Linked DNA regions of Homo sapiens. Each later gene encodes a partner of the first gene's protein in a complex. Each region holds a gene or a part of one and is shown on either strand. Other genes may lie near its edges. The genes, in order: CWC22, SNRNP40, RBMX2, PLRG1, SF3B2, PPIL2 and SNRPG.

The links.
Region 2: CWC22 (region 1) and SNRNP40 share a complex: the UniProt entries of both Homo sapiens proteins name them as parts of the minor spliceosome.
Region 3: CWC22 (region 1) and RBMX2 share a complex: the UniProt entries of both Homo sapiens proteins name them as parts of the minor spliceosome.
Region 4: CWC22 (region 1) and PLRG1 share a complex: the UniProt entries of both Homo sapiens proteins name them as parts of the minor spliceosome.
Region 5: CWC22 (region 1) and SF3B2 share a complex: the UniProt entries of both Homo sapiens proteins name them as parts of the minor spliceosome.
Region 6: CWC22 (region 1) and PPIL2 share a complex: the UniProt entries of both Homo sapiens proteins name them as parts of the minor spliceosome.
Region 7: CWC22 (region 1) and SNRPG share a complex: the UniProt entries of both Homo sapiens proteins name them as parts of the minor spliceosome.

What each region holds. Positions count from the first base shown.
Region 1 is NC_000002.12:179,951,798-179,955,297, forward strand, and holds part of CWC22 (pre-mRNA-splicing factor CWC22 homolog), read right to left. Parts: intron 3,238-3,500; coding exon 3,160-3,237; intron 2,561-3,159; coding exon 2,408-2,560; intron 802-2,407; coding exon 674-801; intron 1-673. UniProt on the Homo sapiens protein: Required for pre-mRNA splicing as component of the spliceosome. As a component of the minor spliceosome, involved in the splicing of U12-type introns in pre-mRNAs. Promotes exon-junction complex (EJC) assembly.
Region 2 is NC_000001.11:31,279,789-31,283,288, reverse strand, and holds part of SNRNP40 (U5 small nuclear ribonucleoprotein 40 kDa protein), read left to right. Parts: intron 1-1,792; coding exon 1,793-1,915; intron 1,916-3,500. UniProt on the Homo sapiens protein: Required for pre-mRNA splicing as component of the activated spliceosome. Component of the U5 small nuclear ribonucleoprotein (snRNP) complex and the U4/U6-U5 tri-snRNP complex, building blocks of the spliceosome.
Region 3 is NC_000023.11:130,408,487-130,411,986, reverse strand, and holds part of RBMX2 (RNA-binding motif protein, X-linked 2), read right to left. Parts: intron 2,731-3,500; coding exon 2,601-2,730; intron 640-2,600; coding exon 462-639; intron 1-461. UniProt on the Homo sapiens protein: Involved in pre-mRNA splicing as component of the activated spliceosome. As a component of the minor spliceosome, involved in the splicing of U12-type introns in pre-mRNAs.
Region 4 is NC_000004.12:154,537,453-154,540,400, reverse strand, and holds part of PLRG1 (pleiotropic regulator 1), read left to right. Parts: intron 1-347; coding exon 348-450; intron 451-1,187; coding exon 1,188-1,296; intron 1,297-2,292; coding exon 2,293-2,432; intron 2,433-2,921; coding exon 2,922-2,948. UniProt on the Homo sapiens protein: Involved in pre-mRNA splicing as component of the spliceosome. Component of the PRP19-CDC5L complex that forms an integral part of the spliceosome and is required for activating pre-mRNA splicing.
Region 5 is NC_000011.10:66,062,364-66,065,863, forward strand, and holds part of SF3B2 (splicing factor 3B subunit 2), read left to right. Parts: intron 1-645; coding exon 646-753; intron 754-1,036; coding exon 1,037-1,179; intron 1,180-1,264; coding exon 1,265-1,366; intron 1,367-3,500. UniProt on the Homo sapiens protein: Component of the 17S U2 SnRNP complex of the spliceosome, a large ribonucleoprotein complex that removes introns from transcribed pre-mRNAs.
Region 6 is NC_000022.11:21,672,512-21,676,011, forward strand, and holds part of PPIL2 (RING-type E3 ubiquitin-protein ligase PPIL2), read left to right. Parts: intron 1-2,552; coding exon 2,553-2,604; intron 2,605-3,500. UniProt on the Homo sapiens protein: Has a ubiquitin-protein ligase activity acting as an E3 ubiquitin protein ligase or as an ubiquitin-ubiquitin ligase promoting elongation of ubiquitin chains on substrates.
Region 7 is NC_000002.12:70,287,241-70,290,740, reverse strand, and holds part of SNRPG (small nuclear ribonucleoprotein G), read left to right. Parts: intron 1-1,368; coding exon 1,369-1,391; intron 1,392-2,548; coding exon 2,549-2,673; intron 2,674-3,369; coding exon of another isoform or gene 3,370-3,480; exon of another isoform or gene 3,481-3,500. UniProt on the Homo sapiens protein: Plays a role in pre-mRNA splicing as a core component of the spliceosomal U1, U2, U4 and U5 small nuclear ribonucleoproteins (snRNPs), the building blocks of the spliceosome.

The DNA.
Region 1 (3,500 bases):
AAGAGGCAGGCTGAGGAGAAGACTGAGAGAGGAAGTGAGAAGAAAGTATGGAGCCACAGTGAGTAGGTAGTCAACTGCATAAGTGAGGCAGAGAAGTGAAGAGGCATGCAGCCTGAGAAAGACAACTGAATATGGCAGGTGGTCACTGAGAAATCTGAAAGGATGATTTCAGTAGTGTCAATGGAGTAGAAGTCAACCTAAGTGGCAATCTGAACAAACAGGAAATAAGAAAGGTGAGAGGGGATTACATAATAATCCTGAAATAAGGCTCTAGTTCTATGTAATATTTTGAACAATTATTAATAGATGAAATATATACTCAAAACTGTCCACTGATAATATTAGTTATCATTCTAAGGCTTAAAATTAGGGTAAAAAGAAAATAAAATTATAAATATCACTGGAGAATTCAAGTGAGCATACAAAAACAATTCTGTATTTTCTAAGAAAATCTAAAAAGGCATTAATTTGAACTCCACTTAAACTAAAAACCACCACTAAAAGTTGCATGTTGTCCTGTGTGACATAACATGAAATTCACAGTGATTAATGGATGAAGAAAGTCTCAGGGGGCTTAGCTCTTGTTTTTACAGTCTCGGATGGGCTTATGTCTGCTACAATGGGAGAAAACCAGAGGTCAATAAGAATAAAAAGTGCTTAATGGCAAACTTACTCATCCTTTAATCTTGCATTAAGTTTAGGAAGACCCATGTATTCACACAGTTCCTGGAAAAATATTTTGACAAAAATTCTACTGGATGATGTAGTGGTTTCTTCACTCAGTTTTATACATTCAAGAACCTGAAAATTAAAATAAAAAAAGACAAGTATATTTTAATTTATAAAAGACAGGACATAGTGACCAATATTTGTAGGTTTAAGTGTTTCTCAAAATTACTATTTATTCCCATCTTCAACCAGAGTTATCTCTGAATATCTCCCCTTATGCTGACATAAAGTTTAAAACTACTTCTCTATACTAACTTTCAAAATGTTAAGATGCGACAGAAATAGATTTCATTCTCTGTTTTGAGTAATGTGCTTTTTATAGCAGGGAAGATATCCTCTCTTGAGCATATAATGGTAAAGATTACTAGCTCCTAAACCTTACTCATCAAAATGTGGTGTATATGAAGGTTTGGGGCAAAATGCCACTTAGCACATTAGGCTACAATTTTGTTTAGCACACATAACATACGATTTAAAAAAAGACAGAAAGTATAATGGTTTATTCTGAATATTAAGACTGTGGCTTAAAAACTGAAATGCCTAAAGAAATATTTTTAGGGAAAATAAAAATAAAAGTAACCTCTAGTTTTTATGGGTTATGTGTTTGGGGGGCCCATTAGTTGGTTAATTGTTTAAAATTCTCACTTCATTTTCTCAAAGAGGGGAAAAAAGAAGTCAAAAATTATTACAATTAGTCTCCTAGGTTAGATTACGAATGCCTATTAATGTAGCTGGACATACTTGGTACTTAAAGTACTATAAAAATCTAACCAATGTTTTTAAGTTTGAGATATTGCCTCATTCTACCATTAGTAGGATGGCATTCTACAAGATAATCCTGTTCTTTCCTCCTGGATGTAATTTCTCATCCTTCTCTCTTTCTTTCTTTCAAATTCCTTTAGTAATTTTGCTTTTCTTAGAATCTAAGACTTTTTATTTTGTATCATTGCTATGGGCATATCTTACCTCTGGTCTTATACTGTAACCCTCTTGAAAGGAGGGGCCATGTATAATTCACTCTGAATACACAGCACCTCTCTCAATGACTCAGTATATAAGTGGTGGCTAACTAACACTGGTTGAAAAACAGCTGTAAAATCAATGCCAGCTTAATGAACGCCTTTCAAATTTCAATCCAGTGCACATTTCCCTATCAAGAATATATCTTTCTTTGTTCTATGACTATAGGATATCCTCTCTATAGCTTACCCAACTTCAATGTCTGCTAAAAAGAACACATCCTTCTAGAACAATCATTTTTTCTCAAACCCAACAAGAGAACCATGGAGAGTTATTCCCTCAGGAATCAAGGGAGAGTAATTCAGAGACACATTTACCACCAAAATAGTGGCATATGTGGATGTGAGTGTGCATGCACGTGTGTGTACACAGAGAAGATGAAAATCTGCAGTACTTTTCCTGAAGACACTCCTAGCCATCACTATCGAAACACTGGCATGTTTGGACTGTTAATATAATACAAAGATAGTATTTCTTGTATATTATTTACCTAGCTTTCTGATTCCTTATAACATGATGATAATCTCAAAGACAGCAGTTCTACACATTTCATTTTAAAGCACATTTCATAATAGGATAAATATGGCTAGCTTATACGAAAATCTATTTGAGAACAGGGAATTAGGAAGGAAGTATAAATATTGACCCATGTACTTACACTCCATGGAAGTGAATCAGTGTATAAAAGGTGAGCAAACATCTTAGCAACATTTCGCAACTTGTTTGTTTCCAAGCGATGGATGGTATCATACTGTTCTTTGAATATACCTTCAAAGGATTCCATGTACTCTTTCTTTAGCATGCAAAATCGCTAATAAATAAAAAATCAGTACCATTAAAAATTGAATGTTAATACAATTATGAGCATATTAAATCCTAAATTTACTGAATCAAAACTTTATTAATATGCTTTATATTTTCAAAGAGCATATATCACTAAATCCTTTTGTGCCATATGATGCTCAAAAAAGAAGTTAATATATATGGTTTCTAATTACCTGAGATTTACATGTTAAAACAAAATCATACATGTAGGTGATCACATGAGGGTAGAGCTTAAAGAAATATTTTAGATCATGCTTTAATTGTGCTGCCTGAACATGTACTTGACTTTAGACACTGCTTTGAGATTTTGAAAAGACAGCATTTACTTGTCGTCTATTGGGAAATCATTACAAATCATGGAAAATTCCAAAAAGCTCTGGAAAAGTGATATGCAAAGTTAAAGCACTGCAAAAATGAAGTAGAAAAAGAGGAAGGTGAAGAGAGTGGGAAACCTGAGGAAGGAGAGAATAATTTGCTTTTAGCAAAAGTGGTAATATGTTTTTAAATGAGACCAGACCATAAAGCAGAAATCATTAATTTACAATATTCGTTTTAAGAATTCCCTCAGTAGAGGCTGGAACTCACCCCAGCTAATAAGCCAAAAAATTTTTCGTATGTCCTCTGTTGGGCACAGCAATCAAGTATCATGTTGCAGAGTTCTTTCTATTTGGGAAAAAAAATACATTAATGATTCAAAACACAAAGAGACTAAATATTGTATAATTTACCAGTATGATAGTGACTGCCTGCATTTTTAAATAAGGGTTTAAAACAGTTCAAAAATTTTGTAAATAAAATAAAAACCTCAATCTATGTTAAACTCATCATTTTTTACAGGCTTGGGTCTGGCTGACAGCTTCCACAGTCATTTATGCTAATTACATTAATTATAAAATTCTAAATTCATGATAAGTATGAACCACATC
Region 2 (3,500 bases), on another chromosome or scaffold:
GTTTGTATTCTTTGTCCTGTGTGACCACTGAATTCTTTTTTTCGTTAGCTTAGTGGTCAGCTAGTGAATGACACAAGTTTCCTAAATTACCTACAACAACAAGAACAAAAATTCTCCCAGTCTTTGCAGATTGTCTTTTTGTATGTTGGAGCCTGCCTTCAACTCCTTGCCATGCAGTTTACATCTCTCCTTAGCTTTCACTTCCTGCTTGTGCAGAGCCTGAAGGTGAACCAGAGAGCTTACGGCCTTCTCAGATCTTTTCTAAGTATGTGCCCAGCCCTGGACATGCAAGTGGTCTAGATTGCCAGGAATGGGCCAGGCGTGGTGGCTCATGCCTGTAATCTTAGCACTTTGGGAGGGTGAGGCAGACAGATCACTTGAGGCCAGGAGTTTGAGACCAGCCTGGTCAACGTGGCGAAACCCTGTCTCTACTAAAAATACAAAAATTAGCTGGGCATAGTGGCACACGCCTGTAATCCCACCTACTCGGGAGGCTGAGACATGAGAATTGCTTGAGCCCGTGAGGTGGAGGTTGCAGTGAGCCAAGATCGCACCACCGCACTCCGGCCTGGGTGACAGAGGGAGAGTCTGTCCCTAGATAGATAGATAGATAGAGATTAGATAGATAGATAGACACATAGATACATAGATAGATAGATATAGATGATAGAAAGATAGATAGATAGATAGATAGATAGATAGATAGATAGATAGATAGATAGATAGATAGCCTAGGCGACAGAGGGAGAGTGTGTCCCCAGATTAGATAGATAGATAGATAGATAGATAGATAGATAGATAGATACATAGATAGATAGATAGCCAGGAATATGTCGGTGCTTTTCGAAGCTCTTATTCCCCAAATTGTCTCCTTCCCCAGCCCTTCCTCCCAAGGTTTTTGGTTTGTATTTTTGCCCCAACTGTTTTTCCTTGCCCCCAGGAACCAGAGGCTAATAATGTCCTTTCCTTTAAATGTTTTCAAGGGAAGTTCCAAGTTAGGCAAAATAAATGTAAGTCCTTTGGGCTCATCCTTCAGAGAGCCACCAGACAGGTAAAAATAAACAATTTTTATTGTTTATTCTTTGACAATAAGAAATAGGCCCCCTTTGCTTCCTCAGTACTAGGAAACCATACTGGGAATATGGGTTATCTTCAAAGCTGTTGCTGAGCAGGAGACAGAGCCAGCACAAGTTAAAACACTACAAAGCCCTTTTACTGGGACTCAGGGAGTTTTTTGTTTCCTTTTTCCTCATTAAGGGTTTGCCGGGTTACTATAAACTTTTGATTAGTTTTGAGAGTTCCAACAGTTGATTCTGACAGATTTTGCTGGTTAATTTGCTGCTTTCGTGGAGGGACAAGCTTTTGTCATTGTTTATTATACTATTTTCACTGACATACCCTCTATTTTTTTAAATGTGGGTTGCAGCCTACTAATGAATTAGTCTCTACGGTTTGAAAAAATTGTCTGATATCCTTGTTGTTCTAAAAAATATATGAACTAAGTAGTTAGGGGAATTCCATTCTAAGAGTATGTTGATTTAACTCTGTTCACTTCAACAAAGAAGTCTGAAAATATAACCGAAGTTTTGTTTCACCAGCCTTCAAATGTCTTGGCAAAATTGAGCACACTGCTTACCATGTGTGTTATTAGGATATCCAGGAGTTAGTGATATAGGATCCCAATTATAGATGTGTTCATGTCCACAAAGTCCTCGTACTTAAGGGATATTTGTACTGTGCAATTGCTTCTTAGAATGATGTTGCTGATAGACTGTCTTGTCCTTTGCTTCAGCTTTGGGACATCCGGAAGAAAGCAGCCATCCAGACATTTCAGAACACGTACCAGGTGTTAGCTGTGACCTTCAATGACACAAGTGATCAGATTATTTCTGGTGGAATAGACAATGATATCAAGGTATGTTTGATGTTTATGATATATTTCCATTTCATCTATCTGCACTTAGAAACGAATTTTTTCAAACTTCTGAGATTGTGGTAGCTTTGCACTTAATACCAACTGAAAGGAAAATAGTAACTTGGAACTTATTTTCTTTTTCTCCTGTCTTCATTGACTTCCTAAATTAAAGTTTGCATTGCAGATCTTATAAATGCTGTCAGGGACCAGGCACTTAATGTGAAGTGTGAAGTCTCTGTAGGGGGACTATGTAAAAAATAAAGAGTGCATTTCCTTTTAAAGACATTCAAAATCTTTTTTTAACCATCTTGGTTTAAAGAGAGCAGTGAATCAGTTTGTGATTCTGTATCCTCATCTCTCACTGTGTTTTTCTTTTTGACACTATGGAAAGAGAGTTTTCTAAGTTTCTCTAAGAATGAGAGAAGGTAATGATATTAAAGAGGCAATAGACCATATGGCAGTAGAGTGTAGCTCAAACTTTCAAGTAATTGACTTGGGTTCTAATCCCAGTTTCACCATTTTCTAGTTTTGTGACTTCAAGCACCTTCTTTAAGCCTCTTTTTCTTGTGTGAATGGTGAGGGGGTAATGATAAAAAAAAAAAAAAACAGTAGCATCTACCACATACCATTGTGGGGATTAAATGAGCCTGATTCATTAGAGCACTTAGCAGAATTCCTGGACATAACAAGTGCCAGGAAATGTATTATTTTGGGCCTGCACAGCTTCTGTCTTCCTTTCCTCTTGGCTTCCTTGGGGATCTTAACGACTTTGACCTTACCTTCTGCTTTATAGTAAGAAGAGTAACTGTCAGATACTCAACTTTCTGTGTTGTCCTTACCTAGAAGTTGTACTGTATTTCCATCCCTCATTGTTTCCTTTGCTGTTACTTTGGATGAAATATCCTTGCTTTTGGCCAGGTGTGGTGGCTCACACCTGAAATCCCTGCACTTTGGGAGGCCGAGGCGGGTGGATCACAAGGTCAGGAGACCGAGACCGTCCTGGCCAATGTGGTGAAACCTCGTCTCTACTGAAAATACAAAAATTAGCTGGATGTGATGGTGGTGTGCCTGTAATCCCAGCTACTCAGGAGGCTAAGGCAGGAGATTACTTGAACCTGGGAGTCAGAAGTTGCGGTGAGCTGAGATCACGCCACTGCACTCCAGCCTGGCCACGGAGCAAGACTCCATCTCCAAAAAAAAAAAGAAAGGAATATCCTTGCTTTTGTCTAAAGGTAGTCCTTTTTTTTTTTTTTTTTTTTTGAGTCAGAGTCTTCCTCTGTAGCCCAGGCTGGAGTGCAGTGGTGCTATCTCAGCTCACTGCAACCTCTGCCTCCTGGGTCCCAGTTCAAGCAATTCTCCTGCCTCAGCCTCCTGAGTAGCTGGGATTACAGGCACGTGCCACCATGCCCAGCTAATTTTTGTATTTTTTAGTAGAGACAGGGTTTCACCATGTTGGGCAGGCTTATCTCGAACTCCTGACCTTGTGATCCACCTGCCTCGGCCTCCCAAAGTGCTGGGATTACGGGTGTGAGCCACCGTGCCCGGCCTAAAGGTAGTCCTTTAAATGTGAGGGTTTCAATCCTTC
Region 3 (3,500 bases), on another chromosome or scaffold:
CGTGCCACTGCACTCCAGCCTGGGCGACAGAAACTTTCACATGCTAGGAAGTGGGGAATGTGCATAAGGAGAACAACCTTGGCAGCAGCATGAAGCAGCCACTGTCTAGGCCTCCAGGAGAGTGCCTCCGAGAAGCCAACTTGGATGTCTGTCACCTTTGATATGTCGAGTGGCTGTACAAGGTAATTCCCATCCTGAGTTACCTCTTCAAAGACCTTATCTCCAAATACAGTCGCATTCTGAGGTGCTGAGGGTTAGGATTTCACCATATTAACTTGGGGAGAGACACAATTCTGCCCATAGCACCAGCCTTCCACTGATACTCCCTGCTTTCCCAATTAAACTATGCTTCCCCACACCTTCCCCTTTCACACTTGAGTTGATTATCAACTATCAGTGAATGCAAGGAAGAGCAGACATTAAGACCACCCAGAATCTTCTCTTAAGTCTTAATGCTTTACCTTTTTTGTGCTTTTTTGTTGGTTTTTCATCTTCAGAGCTCTCAGACAAACTTGGTGAGGGGGTACGAGCCCCACAGCCCTTCTCCTGGAGTTGTCTGGTCACATCATCTATTTCTTCTGAGTCCTTAGGAGCCCGATAGTTAGACACATGATCCACTCGGATAGTTCTTCCTTTGATCTAAGCAAGACAGGCGATGCTTCAGTGAAGACAGCCCTCATACCAAACTGTCAAACTATTTGAACACAAGCTACAGAGAACCATGATTTGAACTACATCCTTTACCTTCTTGTTAAATTCTGTCACTAAAGCAGACCTGTCCAACTGGTGTGTCATAGCATGTACACCTAAATATTAATACATTCAGCTCTCAGTGCAGCCAGATGAGGCCTGGGGCAGTTGTACCAGCAGCCTCATCACTTTACTCTGGGGCAGCATACAAATATCTTCATGTTCTGTATGTGCCATAAAATGAAAAAGACTAGGAAAACTACCTCAAAGCACAAGCATCAGGGAAGACTGAGATTTAGATGCACAATGAATCACCCTTGATCTGTAACCTAAGTTTACAGTGAAACATACCCTAGGAAGGTCTGGCAACTAGAAGGAATTCTTGAAATCTAGCTTAATGCTACAACTGCTTTCTCCACCCAGTAATTAGGAGGCAAAGTCAGACCAATAGTTTGGAGGGAGAAAGGAATCAAGAAAAGGGCACTTGCTTTTTTCTTAAGCCCTCACACCTTGCTCTAGCCCCACCATACTGGAACAATCAGCTCACGCTGATTCTTGCACAACGAATCACATCTCTCCAGATGAACAACAACAAAATATTAACCCCTCTGGCCGGGCGCAGTGGCTCACACCTGTAATCCCAGCACTTTAGGAGGCCAAAGCGGGTGGATCACTTGAGGTCAGAAGTACGAGACCAGCCTGGCCAATATGGTGAAACCCCATCTCTACTAAAAATACAAAAATTTGCCGGGCATGGTGGTGCACACCTGTAATTCCAGCTACTCAGGAGGCTGAGACAGGAGAATCACTTGAACCCAGGCAACAGAGGTTGTGGTGATCCAAGACCACGCCACTGCACTCCAACCAGGGCAACAGAGTGAGACCCTGTCCCCCTCCCCCACCCCCCAAAAAATTAACACCTCACTTAAAATAAAAATATTCTATTTTTAGGCAGATACAGACTTACTCCCTAGGCAAAGTCATCCAAAATTTAAAGTTTGGCTTTTATTGTTCCAATACAAGAGCAGATTTTTATTTTTACCTTAAGGCCTAAGTGGCTTCTGTCATGTATCCTCTTCTCCATTTTGAAACACTTTGGAAAACCTTCCTTTTACAGTGATGCCCTCTGACTGCTGGCTTCCTTAAACATCAAGCCTAGAACCTTGTTCCACTCTGTTCTATAATCTCCAGCTATTCCATACTCGTGAATCAGTGACAAACTCTCCAACTCAAGCCTCCCCCCACCAACTCTGTGACACTGTTCAACTGCAGCTCTTTTCCTAAATGAGTGCAGCAACCACATGGAGCATCAATAAGCCTGACTTGCGCTATCTCCTTCTAAGAACTCAGTGCCTCACTTATGACAGTGGAAATGAGAGGGAACTGGGGGGAGAAAATTTCAGGATGAAATTACTTTTGTAGAATCTGCCATCAGATTTTAACTAGAGAATTTCTAGGGCCCAATATGCTAGGTCACTGGAGATATATGACAGACATACATGGCTATGTACTAGATTATGAGGCCATGATGAAGCCCAAAACCCCCAACACACAACAATATGGAAGAGCAATGTTTGCTAGTCTCTTCATCCTCCAGTACACCAGAGATGACAGTAGACAATAAAAGAAAGGTGAAAAACAGAGGCCTGGATGAGAGGCAGGCCTGGTGCCTATGCTCCTGGGGAGATGGTTTGTTAACAGATGGGGAAAAGAAGCAAGTCCTGCAGGACCATGAGCCAACAGAATTATTTCCTGGAATCTCTTCTTGACCAGTGTCTCCACATCTCTGCAGCCCCCGCAACACACCAAGCTCACAAGTGCTGCCCTTGTGTCTGCGGGAACCAGGTAGAAAACGAAACCCCTATACATGGGAAAAAAGTCCAACCAACCTGCTTAATAAGCACACTCACCTTGATCCCATTAAAATTGTCGACGGCCAGAATTGTGCTCCTCTGGTCTTCATAGCAGAGGAAACAGAATCCTTTGGATTTCCCAGTTTTCTTGTCCCGCACGAGATTAATGTTAACAATCTCCCCATATCTATTTATTTTATAAAAGAGTAAGACACTGTTGACTTAAAAGGCAAAAACATGCAGATAAGGTAATAAAACAAAATTCAAATAATATAGTGTATACAAGAGATGCATCTAGAACAAGATGACATAGAAAGGTTGCAAAGAAAAAGTCAGACAAGAACAGGAACCCCCAATTAAAAAATGGGTGGCAATATCCAGAGCAAAGACTAATTCAAGGCCAAAATAAAAATATCACATGAGACTAAGAAGATTATTTTACACTGAAAAAGGCCTAAATACACAACAAAGGTATAAGCCAGGAAAACGTTATGAGCCAATTAAGAAATCAAAAATTTTAATTAAAAAAGCTATTTGAAATGCAAAAAGAAACTAATAGAGAAAGTTATGGGAGAATTTAACACATCACTTTGAAGTTTATCACGCACAAAGTGGACAGAAATAAACTAAAATCAGATTAATTAATATACATAATTACTCTGTTATAATAACAAATATTAATGTAGGACTATTAGATACATAGATATCTTTGAATCCTACAAGATGACATTTTCAAGAATCCATGAAGCATGTATTAAAATTGACTATGGATTAGGTCTCAATGTAAACCTCAATAATTATACTACAAAAAACAGAACAGACCATGTTTCCAGTTATAATGTTATAAAGCTGGAAATGATATTTTAAATAAAAAAAAGTTACCTAACTAGAACTTGAAAGCTACTCTCCTAACAACAGCATGAAAGAGAAGACGAAGCAAAATTAAAAAAAAATAAA
Region 4 (2,948 bases), on another chromosome or scaffold:
TAGTGTTATTAGTGCCCTGCCCCTGAAATGTGATATTCTCACGTTCCATTCTGTAACAACTATTGTCCATTAGTTCTTTCATTCAGTAGTCTTAAAAAGTAGTCCCATCATACTCATTCTTAGATTTTCAGTACCCTGATCTTTTAGCTTTTTAGAATTCTTGCAAGTTGTCTCCTATTTATATTCGTCCTCCAGTTTGTAAATCATTATCTTTCACTTAAGCATTTTCTTTATTATATTCAGGCACTAGTTATGTAGTAAATTTTCAGCCTTGAATTGATCCAGTTATCTTCTTGAGATAATGAATACCTATTCTCTTTCCTAATATGTCTATTGTGTTTTTATAGATTTGGGATGTGAGAACTAAAGCCAGTGTACACACATTATCTGGACATACAAATGCAGTTGCTACAGTGAGATGTCAGGCTGCAGAACCACAAATTATTACAGGTATGATCGATACTTTTCAAGTTTACAGAATATTCATGTCAGAATCCATGTTATTATACATATACTTTTAATATTCATGATGACTCTTGCTCTGTATTGTGTTTACAGTGTTTCTGTGTCATATTTTAATCATGGACAATTGAAATGTATTCAAATGAAATTTCATTCCACTGTTTTTACCTCATGCTTTTTACATATCATAGAGTATGCCATACATAGTATCCTGTAATGTCTGACTAGAATACTGTGTTATGAACAATTATTATTTTATAGTGTCAAAATTATTTTTCTAAGAAATTGAAGTTAGAAGACAAAACATCTTGAGACTAGTAATCTTTAGAACTGATTTGAATCTTACTTTGCTCTAAATAAAGTTAGTAACAATGGATCTTTAATACTAGAAAATAATTCCTTTGCCTGATGTATTTTATTAACTTAAAAAAATCATTGAAGTTTTTTCCTTTTCACTAGGGTATACAATTATATATTTATTTGTTATTTGCATTTGTTTTAGCTGTTCAATTGACAGTGAATCAATTGTTGTATTGCATTTTTTTAAAGAATTAAAATCAACCTAAAAATTTGGAACTATGAAGAAATTAGCCAAGACTAATTTGCGTGTGATATGACTTTCATTTAGAACATATGTGTTTTGGAAGAATGCTTTGTATTTTATTTAACTTTTGCATTATTTTTCCTGGTCTATGTTTTGAGGGATATATGTGTTTCCATTACAGGAAGCCATGATACTACAATTCGATTATGGGATCTGGTGGCTGGAAAAACAAGAGTGACATTAACAAATCACAAAAAATCAGTTAGGGCTGTGGTTTTACATCCAAGACAGTAAGTGTATTTTCCTAATTAGCTTCTTGTTTTTCTTCAGTTCTTAAGATAATGCTGAAATGCTAGTGGTGTTAGCACTGCTTTTGGCAGTCATTTAGCTGCTGTCATTTCTAGGCCTGTGCCGCATAGGAACGTGTGTTTCTTTTATTTTCCTCATGCACTATTTTGCTTCATGCCCTATAAAACATGAGGAAAGCCTTCTACTTGATAACAAATAAATAATGTCAAATGAGACAGTGTAAATCATGATTAAATGCTGCATGTCAAAATAAAAGATATTAGTGGCTAGGCTTAATGTTTTGGACATAAATGATTTTGGACACTGAGACATTCATTGAATAGTTTAATTCTTAAGGAGGAAGTTAATATATGTAGAAACAGAAATAATAAGAACCGTGAACATTACAGTCAGAGTATCCAAAAAGGTGGAGCATAATATCACAACTATTGTTTGGTGTATCAGATCACTCTGACACTTTTCTGGATTCTTCCTCTCCTTCCTTTCCTCTTCTCTGTCTTCTACTCTCCATACCCTTTTCCCCCTCTCTTCTTCCTTCCTTTGCTTATCTTTCTCACTCCCATTTCGCCTCTCCTCCCTCCTGTTCTCTCTCTTCCTCTTGCCCTCTATTCCTTTTCTCTCTTTCTTCCTGTCCTGTCTTGCTCTCCCTCCCTCCAAAAGAGTTGCATAACACATTGCCCTTCATGTGAAATAGGGCTTCTGCACATTTATTGCTCTGGCTTAGTGCAGAGCATTAAGGAAATGAAAGGAGAACAAAACATTAATCTAGGACTTAAAATATACTGTTAAAAATGTGAAGGTCTGATTTAACCTTGAACAAATGTCTTAATATTTTTACATTTTGATACGACTATTTTGCTGAATATATAAATCATTGAGTACACACTGCAAAATATAACTGAAATAAACTTTTTAAAACCCACCACTTTATTTAACTTGGTTTACTTTGTCGTTAATTCTTTTTAATATTATTTCAGTTACACATTTGCATCTGGTTCTCCAGATAACATAAAGCAGTGGAAATTCCCTGATGGAAGTTTCATTCAAAATCTTTCCGGTCATAATGCTATTATTAACACATTGACGGTAAATTCTGATGGAGTGCTTGTATCTGGAGGTAAAATAAGATTTTTATAATAAATATGTTTAGTCTGTTATTTTTTCTTTTAATGATGAATAAACATTTGTAATGCTTCTAAGCTGTCACACTTAAGTATTATAGCAGCACTTGCCTGGTTAGGGCATATTTGCATGTTATTATGTGTGTTCATGCATATTCATATTACATGTAGTATATTTCATAGCTTAGTCCTCTTTGAGTTCCCATCTAATGAATCTCAGGGATTTATGCTGGGAATTGCTTAAAATTTTGTTTATTATTCTGGAATTGGATGTCAGATTTTCAGGTGCTTTTTAAGATCTATAAGTTCTGAACCCAGCCCAAATGAAAGTAGACAAACCAATATTAAGAGAAGGTGGAGTGCCTGTGTCTTATGTATTTTTATAACCGTAGTATTCCCATGCTTGGGCTAATGATGCTTCATAAATGTTTGTCAAGCTGTACTGCTGAGGGGATACCAGGTGTAACTAGATTTTTCCCTTTAAGCTGACAATGGCACCATGCATCTTTGGG
Region 5 (3,500 bases), on another chromosome or scaffold:
GGTGTCTCAACACCTGTAATCCCAGCACTTTGGGAGGCTGAGGTGGGAGGATCCCTTGGGGCCAGGGGTTTAAGACTAGCCTGGGCAACATAGTGAAACCGCACCTCTACTTTAAAAAAAAAAAAAAAGAAAAAAGAAATAATTTTTTTTTAGCTTCACTTCAGTCTCTCAGAAATAATTTTATCTCAAGAATGTCTTCAAATTTCTTATTTTAAAATAAGCATTAAAAAAATTGATGAGTCATTAAAGTAAAACAGTAGTATTGTTAAATTTTAGATAGAAATTTCTGCCCCTTAAGATAAATAGATTCTGAACAAGCTAGCTTTCCAAAGTTAGGAAAACTCAATAAGAAATTGAAGTCATGTTTTCAATGTACGTATTTTGGTTTCAGACAGTAAAGACTCTGCCATGACAGAAGTTATTAGCATACTTTCTGCCTCCTGTCTCCTTATCCTGTTGCCTCCAGATTTTAGTTGTTTATTAATTTTGGTTTCTAATGCTTCATAACATTTGATTTAATTCTGCAGTCATAATTTCCGGAGTTCCCAAGTATCAGCTCTGTACTTTTGAGTGTGCCTTTTCTCTAGGGCTTCAGAATTTCTTTTGCAGCTAAGGAGTGAACTGATTGTGCTCACTGTCTTGCAGAGCTGTTCCTTTGGGTACCATGCTGGTGGCTGGGGCAAACCTCCAGTGGATGAGACTGGGAAACCGCTCTATGGGGACGTGTTTGGAACCAATGCTGCTGAATTTCAGGTATGGGCCATGTACTAGCGATCTTGGTTTTACTTAATGTCATGAAGGTTAGATTGTTGGTTTATAGCTTCATTATCAGGGAGTTGTGTGTTCTGACACAGCAGAGCCTGGAAAAGGGCATACATTTTCCTGAGATGTTAATGTAAGCTCCTCACTAGAATTTGAGCTCTAGGTAGGTAGGGATTATTGTGTTTTGACTCTTACACCCCTTCAGCTTAAAACAGCCTGGCACATAATAGGTACTTAGAAAACATTTGTTGAATGATAAAGTGATCTCTTTCAGACCAAGACTGAGGAAGAAGAGATTGATCGGACCCCTTGGGGGGAACTGGAACCATCTGATGAAGAATCCTCAGAAGAAGAGGAAGAGGAAGAAAGTGATGAAGACAAACCAGATGAGACAGGCTTTATTACCCCTGCAGACAGGTGGGGGAAGCAGAGAATGCCTCTTGGAAGTGGGCTATCTTTGGGGTCCTTCTCTTTACTCCAGAGCTTGTTCCTCTCTTTACAGTGGCCTTATCACTCCTGGAGGCTTTTCATCAGTGCCTGCTGGAATGGAGACCCCTGAACTCATTGAGCTGAGGAAGAAGAAGATTGAGGAGGCGATGGACGGGTAAGGGTACCAGACAGGGCTGAGAGGGGAGGACCTTCACTTCCCTTTGGCTGGCTGGCTGACTGTTGTTCCTTTCTCCCTCATCCTTTTTTAAACAATTATTGAACCAACTCTCTGCCAGGCACTACTGTAGGCAGTGAGGAGTCAGCAGTTGAGGTAAACTGGTAATCAGAGAACAAGATACTTTCAGATGTAGATAAGGATGTTGAAGCAGAGGAAACTGGGTAATGGGATGGGGTGGCAGGGAGGCCTTTGGGAAGGCCTCACTGGGGAGGTGGTGCTTGAACTAAGACCCGAATGAAAAAGCGCCAGCCACAGGATCATCTGGGTCAGAAGTAACAGTAAATGCAAGCAAGTGCAAAGGCACTGAGACAGGGATGGGCTAGTATTTTGAAGCTCCATTTTTAGGTAGTTGAATGTGTAGTGTTGTTAGGTCTTCATGAATTGACCCCTTTATCATGAAATGACCCTCTCTTTATCCATTCTGCTCTTTGTTCCCTTTTTCCTGTTTTTCTACCTTCTTTTGGATTACTTGAACAATTTTTATGATTTCATTTTATCTCCAGTGTTGGTTAATTAGCTGTTAAGTTTTTGCTTTGTTATTTTAGTTGTTGCTCTGGGGTTTATAGATCATGTCTTTATCAGGATCTACCTTCTCTTGATGTTACACTGCTTCCAGATAGTATTAAGAGCCATTATAGTATACTTCATTTCTCTCCTCCCAATTTTTGCACTATATTGTCATATATTCACTTTTACATATGTTATAAATCCTATACTATATAGTTATTATTTTTGTTTAAATGGTCAGTTATCTTTTAGGGAGGTTTAAATAAGAATCATGCATGAAGCCATGTAGTTACCATTTTTGTTTCTTTCATTTCTTTGTGTATATCCAGGTTTCTATCTGATATCATTTTTCCTCTGCCTGAAGGGCTTCCTTTAACATTTCTTAAGTTAGGGGGCGTGGTGGCTTAAGCCTGTAATCTCAGTACTCTCAGTACTTTGGGAGAAGGCTGAGGTGGTAGGATTGCTAGATTCCAGGAATTTGAGACCAGCCTGGGCAACATAGTGAGACCCCATTTCTACAAAATATTAAAAAAACATTTCTTGTATTGTGGGTCTGCTGGTTTTGAATTTGTTCTGCTTGAGTAGTCTTAAAAATTCTTTATTTGGCCTTCATTTTTGAAAGATCTTTGCCAGGTTTAGGATTCTAGGTTGACAATCTTTTTTCTTTCAACACTTTTTTTTTTCTTCTTTGAGATGGAATCTTGCTATGTCGCCCAGGCTGGAGTGTAGTGGTGTGATCTTGGCTCACTATAACCTCCACCTCCTGGGTTCAAGCGATTCTCCTGTTTCAGCCTCCCGAGTAGCTGAGATTACATGTGCATACCATCACACCCAGCTAATTTTTATATTTTTAGTAGGGATGGGGTTTTGCCATGTTGGCCAGGCTGGTCTCGAGCTCCTGGCTTCAAGTGATCCGCCTGCCTTGGCCTCCCAGCTTGTTGGGATTACATGTGTGAGTGACCGCATCAGCCTTCTTTCAGTACTTTTAAGATGTTGCTCCAGTGTCTTCTTTCTTGCATTGTTTCTAGTGAGAAAACTGCTGTCATTCTTACCTTTGTTCCTGTGTACATAATGTGTCATTTTTATTTGGCTGTTTTTAAGATTTTATCACTAGTTCTAACAATTTGACTACAATGTGCCTTGGTGTAGTTTCTGAATGTTTCTTTGCTTGGGGTTTTTTAAGCATCTTAGATCTGGGTTTTTAGTTTTTATTAATTTGGGGAAAATTTTGTCATGATTTCTGCAGATATTTTCTCTGTTCCCTTCTCTTTCCTTTGGGAACTCAAATTATTCCTCTATTAATGAAATAATAAATGAAAAAATAAATGAAGAGCTCACTGATGCTCTTCATTTTTAAAGAAATTCTTCTCTCTTTGTATTTCACTTTAGAAAATTTCTATTGCTATATGTTCAAGTTTACTATTATTTTCTTCTGTAATTTCTGATCTAACAGTAATCCCATACAATATAATTCTCCTTTCTAGAAGTTTGATTTCGGGTCTTTTAAATCTATTCTTTCTCTCTTAACTTTTTGAACATGTGGAATGCAGTTATAACAATATTT
Region 6 (3,500 bases), on another chromosome or scaffold:
AGTCTTCCCCTCCTCTCCCCACACCCATTCTTTTCCAGAAATGCTTCCGGCCTGTGCACGTGTATATATGTGCATGTCTTTTCTTGGGCCATAGCTGTGACCTCGTCTTAACTTGATTCTATCTGCAAAGACCCTATATAAACCTTTGATTATATCCAAGTCAGGCCACATTCACAGGTTCCCAGTGAGCATCAGTTTTGTGGGGACATTATGCAGCCTGGTTCCGAGGGAGATCTAGTGTATTTTACCAGTGACCTTGCCCTTCCTGTTGGAATTACTTGCATGTATTCCTCCACCTCTTTCCTATGGCCTGGGGCAAGAGCTCAAACTGTGCGAGACGGAGGGTCGGGACTCCGGTGGGCTCCCTGTGCTGGAGCCGCTGGGAGGGAGCTCCCTGGACAATATGACCCTCCCTACCGGGCCAGCAGGAGAAGCTGGCAGCCCATCTGTCTCAGCTCTTCTGGCCCTTGTGGTGTTCTGGGGGCTGCAGGGTTCTGGGGACTCTTTGTAGATGGAGTTGGTGCTCCTCCAAGGCTTCCCTGCTCTCCAGTACAAGGGGAACTTGGCCAGGGGGCTGGTTTTTGAGTGTTCTTGGACCAGCGACTAAAGCCCGTGGCTTTTCTCTTTCAAATGCTTGGGTAGGGGGCTTGTGGCCTCACCTCCTTAGGGAGGGCACTCTTCTTCCTTGGTCTTTGTCACTTGAAGACTGTTTCTGTGATGTCTGCTGCTGGGAGCCACATTGGATCCCAGGGGCTTCCCCCAAGGTCCGTGCCCCAGTCTGGGAAGTCATTCTCTGTTGCTCTTCTCAGCAGAGGTCCCTGCTGCCTGCCTGTGCCCTGTGTGGCTGGGTGTCGGCCTCAGGGAGCAGCCTGGTGGCAAGGTGGGGGTAGGTGGGGTTTTCCTGTCCACAGCTGCCCTCATGGCCCCTGCTGTCCCAGTGGATTCTGTCATTTGGTTGCAGCTGGGATGCATTTTGCTACTTTGGGTGTTTTGCTTCACAGGTACTCTTTGGGGTTCCCAAACTTGTCGATTGTGCTGGCCCCCACACCCACAAAGTCTGATCTGGCAGTTAGCCACGCTGTTAGGGCTTACATCAGGGAGGTGTGGCCATTTCTTTGTTCCAGGCATCATGTTGGGGTGAGTCTGCAGGAGCGCCCTACACGTCTTTATCCTGTGCCTGCGCCTCTCCCTTGGCCTGCTCTGGAAGGGACCTTGCTGTGTGCTTGCTTGGCCAGACCTATGGGTGTCAGCAGAGCCTTGCTAGCCAAACCTCTGAGGAGAGTTCCTGGGCCAAGGGCTGGCTGGCCCATGTGACTTTTGGGGGCTCAGGAGGAGCCTGTTGTGTTGGGGAGTCTCTCTGCTCAGGTCCTGTGTCTGAATAGGGACCCTGCTGGCCCTCTGGTGGTCTCCTCCACACCTGTAGTGATGTAGGGAGGTGGGGGTAGTTGAATGACAAAGGAAGGAACGAAGGTGGTTAGAGGAGCAGATGCGGTCAGTTGGGTTGGCCAGCAGCAGGCAGGGCCCACGGAGGGCGGGGAGGGCAGCTTAAGGACCTGCTGCCAGCTTAGGGCCCAGCCCCAGGAGGCTCCCGCTGTGTCTCCCCTGGGCCTGGGTAGGCATAGCTGGGCCCAGCCCACACCAGGTGGCAGCAGCTGCTGGATTGTGGCCCTGAGTGAGGTGCTCCCCAGCAGCACATAGCTCTGCCTCCCTTCCAGGGTCTCCCCACAGCCCCGCCCCCAGCAGTTCCCACCTCCGGTTGTCCAGACTTTGTTTTATGGGAAAGTTTGCTGTGGAAGAGCTGTACTGCAGACACACCACAGAAACTGAAAACATTACCTGCCACCTGGGGTAGGGGAAATAAGAAAAAAGAAAAAACATCCAGAAACAGAAAAATAGAGTCCCATCTTCCCAACACAACCATTCTTAGCATTGGAGTGTATTTCTTACTTTCTCCCCACTTTTAATGTTTTGTTTTTCTTAAATATTCATATGACAGAGCACTTTGGGAGGCTCAGGTGGGCAGATCATGAGGTCAGGAGATTAGCCTGGTGTGGTGGCGTGTGTCTGTAGTCCTAGCTACTCGGGAGGCTGAGGCAGGAGAATCACTTGAACTAGGGAGTGGGAGGTTGCAGTGAGCTGAGATGTTGCCGCTGTACTCCAGCCTGGTGACAGAGAGGGACTCTGTGTGTCCCACCACTCTAGCTGAAGAAATATGTTCACTTTTTAATTTTAGAAGTAATCTGTGCTCACCATAAAGACGTCCAAACCCTGCAGAAGTATAACACACACCACCCTGTGGCCTGGTCCTCCTGCTCGGGGTCACCCGTGACGGCTCTTCTCAGAGCGTGGTGGGGGTGCCACATAAACACAACTGCCCGACGCCATCCTGCAGCCCCCGTGAGGTCCTTGCAGGGTCTTGGGGCCTTCCCTTTTGTCCAGAGCTGCACAGGGTTGGCCTAGTCAGAGACTTTTCCTGCCTGTCTCTGACCCTAGCATCTCTGTGCATCAGTTACTTATTCATTATCATTAATTATTAACTGTGCTTCTTCCAGAAGCTGGACGGGAGGTCCCTGATCAAGCTGAACTTTTCCAAGAACAGTGAGGGTGAGTGGAACTATCACAGCCAATTCTGGGCTTGACCTGCAGACCCAAGGGCCCAGCTCTCACCAGTTTTCATACGGAATCAGTCATTGCTTTCTGACCAAGCTAGACACCTGCTTTTAATTCCGCAAAAAGTGTCACAGGGCTGGGCACGGTGGCTCACACCTGTAAACCCAGCAGTTTGGGAGGCCGAGGCGGATGGTTCACGAGGTCAAGAGATTGAGACCATCCTGGCCAACATGGTAAAACCCCGTTTCTACTAAAAATACAAAAATTAGCCGGGCATGGTGGCGGGCGCCTGTAGTCCCAGCTACTCGGGAGGCTGAGGCAGGAGAATCACTTGAACCCAGGAGGCAGAGGTTGCAGTGAGCCAAGATGGTGCCACTGCACTCCAGCCTGGCAACAGAGCGAGACTCTGTCTCAAAAAAAAAAGGTGTCACAAGATTTCTTCTCAAAGGTCTGGGTAGTTTTAAGGTGGGGGAGGTTGGGGGCAGAACCTGTGGTGTTGGGAACTTCCCACAAAGGCGATCAGGCCATTGTAAGCTGCTAGTGGCCTTTGTGGGCACAGTTGGATCTGCAGGGCATGGGCCCCCTCTGGCTGAGGCTGTGGTCTGTTTGTTGTTGGAGGCAGAAGTTGCTCATGCTGGGAACCAAGGCGGCAGCTGAGTAGGGGATGTGGGTGGTCTGGAGGGATTTGTCCAGTAGCTCTTGGGCTAGGCTTTTCTTTGCCACAGCTCATAGAGCCCAGCCCAGTGCTGCGGCTCCTGCTTCATGCCCATTACACACCTTCCGCTGTTCTTGTGGCCAGAGGCCCGGATGAGTTGTGCAGCCCACCCCTGCCCAGGTGGTGATCTTGTGCTAGGTTCTAGTCCAGGTCTTTTGCCTGTGGAGATGCTATG
Region 7 (3,500 bases), about 110 Mb from region 1:
GTGCTGGGATTACAAGCATGAGCCACCGCGCCCAGCCCATAAATATATTTTTACTTGTAAATGTATCTACTCCCTCCTTCAGTCATGCTCCTTGTTTTATATTTACATTTTCCCATGATAATCCTATACATTAAAATTGAATAAGTGCCCCACTTCGTGGCCCATATACTAAACATCTTTTTTTCATTTTTTTATATTTTAAAATTTGAATGAAATTTTTAAAATTGAATGAAATTTTATGTTTTCTGGCCTATATGGAAGAAATTAAAAACTGATTTGACTGCATGGCTTAATCTCGTATTCCACTAAAATGGAATTTTTTTTTAATTCATATCGTTTGAAGTTTCAAATGTGCATTTATTATTCTAAAATATACTTAAATGTTGAGGACTACCCTGAACATTTATGCTTGATGCTTTAATATTAAATAAAAGAACACTACTTATTTCAAATATAAAATACCTATTGAATTGGATATGATTTGATTACTGTTTGCTGTCTTTACAACTTAGTTTTGGAAATAACCAAACATAGGCAAGTCTTTGTTTTTCTCTTGTGACTATAAAATCCAGTCATTGAAAATTAGGTCAATGAGACCAGATGTGGTAGCTCATGCCTGTGTAATCCCAGCGGCACTTTGGGAGGCTGAGGGGGAGTATATTTTTCGAGGCCAGGAATTCAGGACCAGCCTGGGCAACATAATGAGACTCCCATCTCTTAAAAAAAAAAAAAAAAAGAAAGAAATTTAGGTCAATGAAACAACGTAGTATTGAACAATAAGAATGTAATTCACATTAGTATACTCTACTTAATGTAAATTAATATAGTCTAAATATGTTTCATTTTTATTGCCTTTCCTCTTCCCAAATTACTTTGCTTCCTAGAATGTCTAATTTAGGTAACCCTTTACGCCCCCACTCTTTTTTTCCCCTGAGACAGTTTCGCTCTATTGCCCAAGCTGGAGTGCAGTGGCGCAATCATGGCTCACTGCAGCCTCAACGTGGCAGGCTCCAGTGATTCTCCGACCTCAGCCTCCCAAGTAGCTGGAACCATAGGCATGTGCCACCACCCCCAGCTAATTTTTGTATTTTTGGTAGAGATGGGGTTTCACCATGTTGCCCAGGCTGGTCTCAACTCCTGAGCTCAAGCAGTCCACCCGCCTCAGCCCCCTAAAGTGCTGGGATTACAGGCGTGAGCTACCTCGCCCTACTCCCTCACTCTTTACAGCAATACATTATTTTTACTATTTTAGATTTCATTATTCCCATTGTATAAATTTTAGCAAATTATCTTAACTATACCTATTTACTTGTTTATGCTTAAATTTTTTTAATTGGTTATATAATCTTTACCCTTTTCCTTTTTCAGATTTATGGACAAGAAGTTATCATGTAAGTTTGTTGTTGTTTTGGGGTTTTTTTTAATTATTTAATTGCTTTTTACATGTGTCTTAGCAATGTTTGGAGCAACTTTATAAAAATTTAAAGCAGCCAGGCGCGATGGCTCACGGCTGTAATCCCAGCACTTTGGGAGGCCGAGGCAGGCGGATCGTGAGATCAGGAGATCAAGACCATCCTGGCTAACACGGTGAAACCCCGTCTCTACTAAAAATACAAAAAAAAATTAGCCGGGTGCAGTGGCGGGCGCCTGTAGTCCCAGTTACTCGGGAGGCTGAGTCAGGAGAATGGCATGAACCCAGGAGGCGGAGTTTGCAGTGAGCCAAGATGGCGGTACTGCACTCCAGCCTGGGCTATAGAGCTAGACTCCGTCTCAAAAAAAAAAAATTTAAAGCACACAGGACCTCTAATTCACATCCGTTAGTTAAGCAGATTACTTAATCCTAACTAGACAATTTTATTTACCTAATTTCTGATAATTAATTTAACAGCACTTCAGACTTTATCTTATGTAAGCCCTTCCTCACTTTGGCAAAATTAACAGGATTTATCAACCTTTTTTCTTTAAACAAGCTACAAAGGACTTAGACAAGGAACAGTTATCTTGTTTCTTGGGAATATGTAGGAATAACATTTGTTCAATTTATCTAAAAATCTGACCCACACAGTACTTGAAATATATGTAGGGGAAAAAACCATGAGCGTTAGAGGTAAGCAGCCTTCAGCTTGAATCTCACTTCTGTCGTACAGTAGCTGTATAACCATGAACCCAGTTACTTAAAAGCTCGGGCACGGTGGTTTACACCTATAATCCCCCAGCACTTTGGGAGGCCAAAGCGGGAGGATCCCTTGAGCCCAGGAGTTCGAGACCAGCCTGGGCAACATAGGGAGCCCCCATCTTTATAAAAATTTTAAAAAAGCTCTGAAGTTTAGTTCTGTCCTATAAAGTAAGGATAATACTACTTTTTAGGATTCTTATAAATTAAAATGTGGAAGTAAATACAAAAATGTTTAACCCAGTTCTTGTCATACAGTAAGGATAGTGGGTTTCAGACATCTCAAATACTTGTGTTTTATCCCACCTGATTTTTAGTGAATGCTTGGTAGCTAATGGAATGTTTTTCTAAAACTTCTTTTTCTCTTTTTAATAGTGAAATTAAATGGTGGCAGACATGTCCAAGGAATATTGCGGGGATTTGATCCCTTTATGAACCTTGTGATAGATGAATGTGTGGAGATGGCGACTAGTGGACAACAGAACAATATTGGAATGGTGGTAAGTAAAGATACAAGAGTTCTCTTGGAGATTTCATTTTTCTTTTGGAATGTGTATTAACTTTCCTGGTTAGTAACCCCCAGAAATGGCAAATAACAGGCAAGATTAGACTTTCCATCTCCTTTTTAGTTGCATACGGCAGTTACTCAGCTGTAGTAATATCCTGGTTACCTGTAGGTAAGATCTCAACTATACAGAACCTAAGGTCCTAGCGCTTGAAATAGCTGTTGGAAATCCTTTTTGAGCTTTATTCTGCAATAGAGGCTCATAGTTGGTCCTTCATTAGAGCAGTAGTTCTGAAACCTTAATGTGTATATGAATCCCCAGGGAATCTTCTTAAAATGAAGATTCTACTTCAGTAGGTATGGGGCAGAACTTAACTAAGGTTTTGCATTTCTACTAATGCCTAATGCAGATCTGCCAGTTCACAGGTAACACTTTCTGATTTTACTTGTATACATAGTTAACCTGGATTTTCTGGTTTACCACACCCAAAATTTTAAGGTAGCCAAGGTAAAAGTTACAAGGGATAATCACAATGACAGTTATTCACATGAGAGAAAAAGCAGGAAAAAATAAGCACATACTGAGCCCTCATAGGATTAAACATTCCTACATTCATTGGGCCGTAGTTTTAGTGATTGCTGAAGAAGAGTTTTGATACCCAGACTTTGAGTCCCTCTTTGTCTAACACAGGACAACATACCTAATAAAGCGGTAAGCCCAAAGTTCTTGAAAAAGGTGAACCAAAAAGGACAACTTACTTTTAGCAAATTATTAAGCATAAAGACCTCCAAGGAGTGGTAAGAGTTGCTAATTATTAGCCT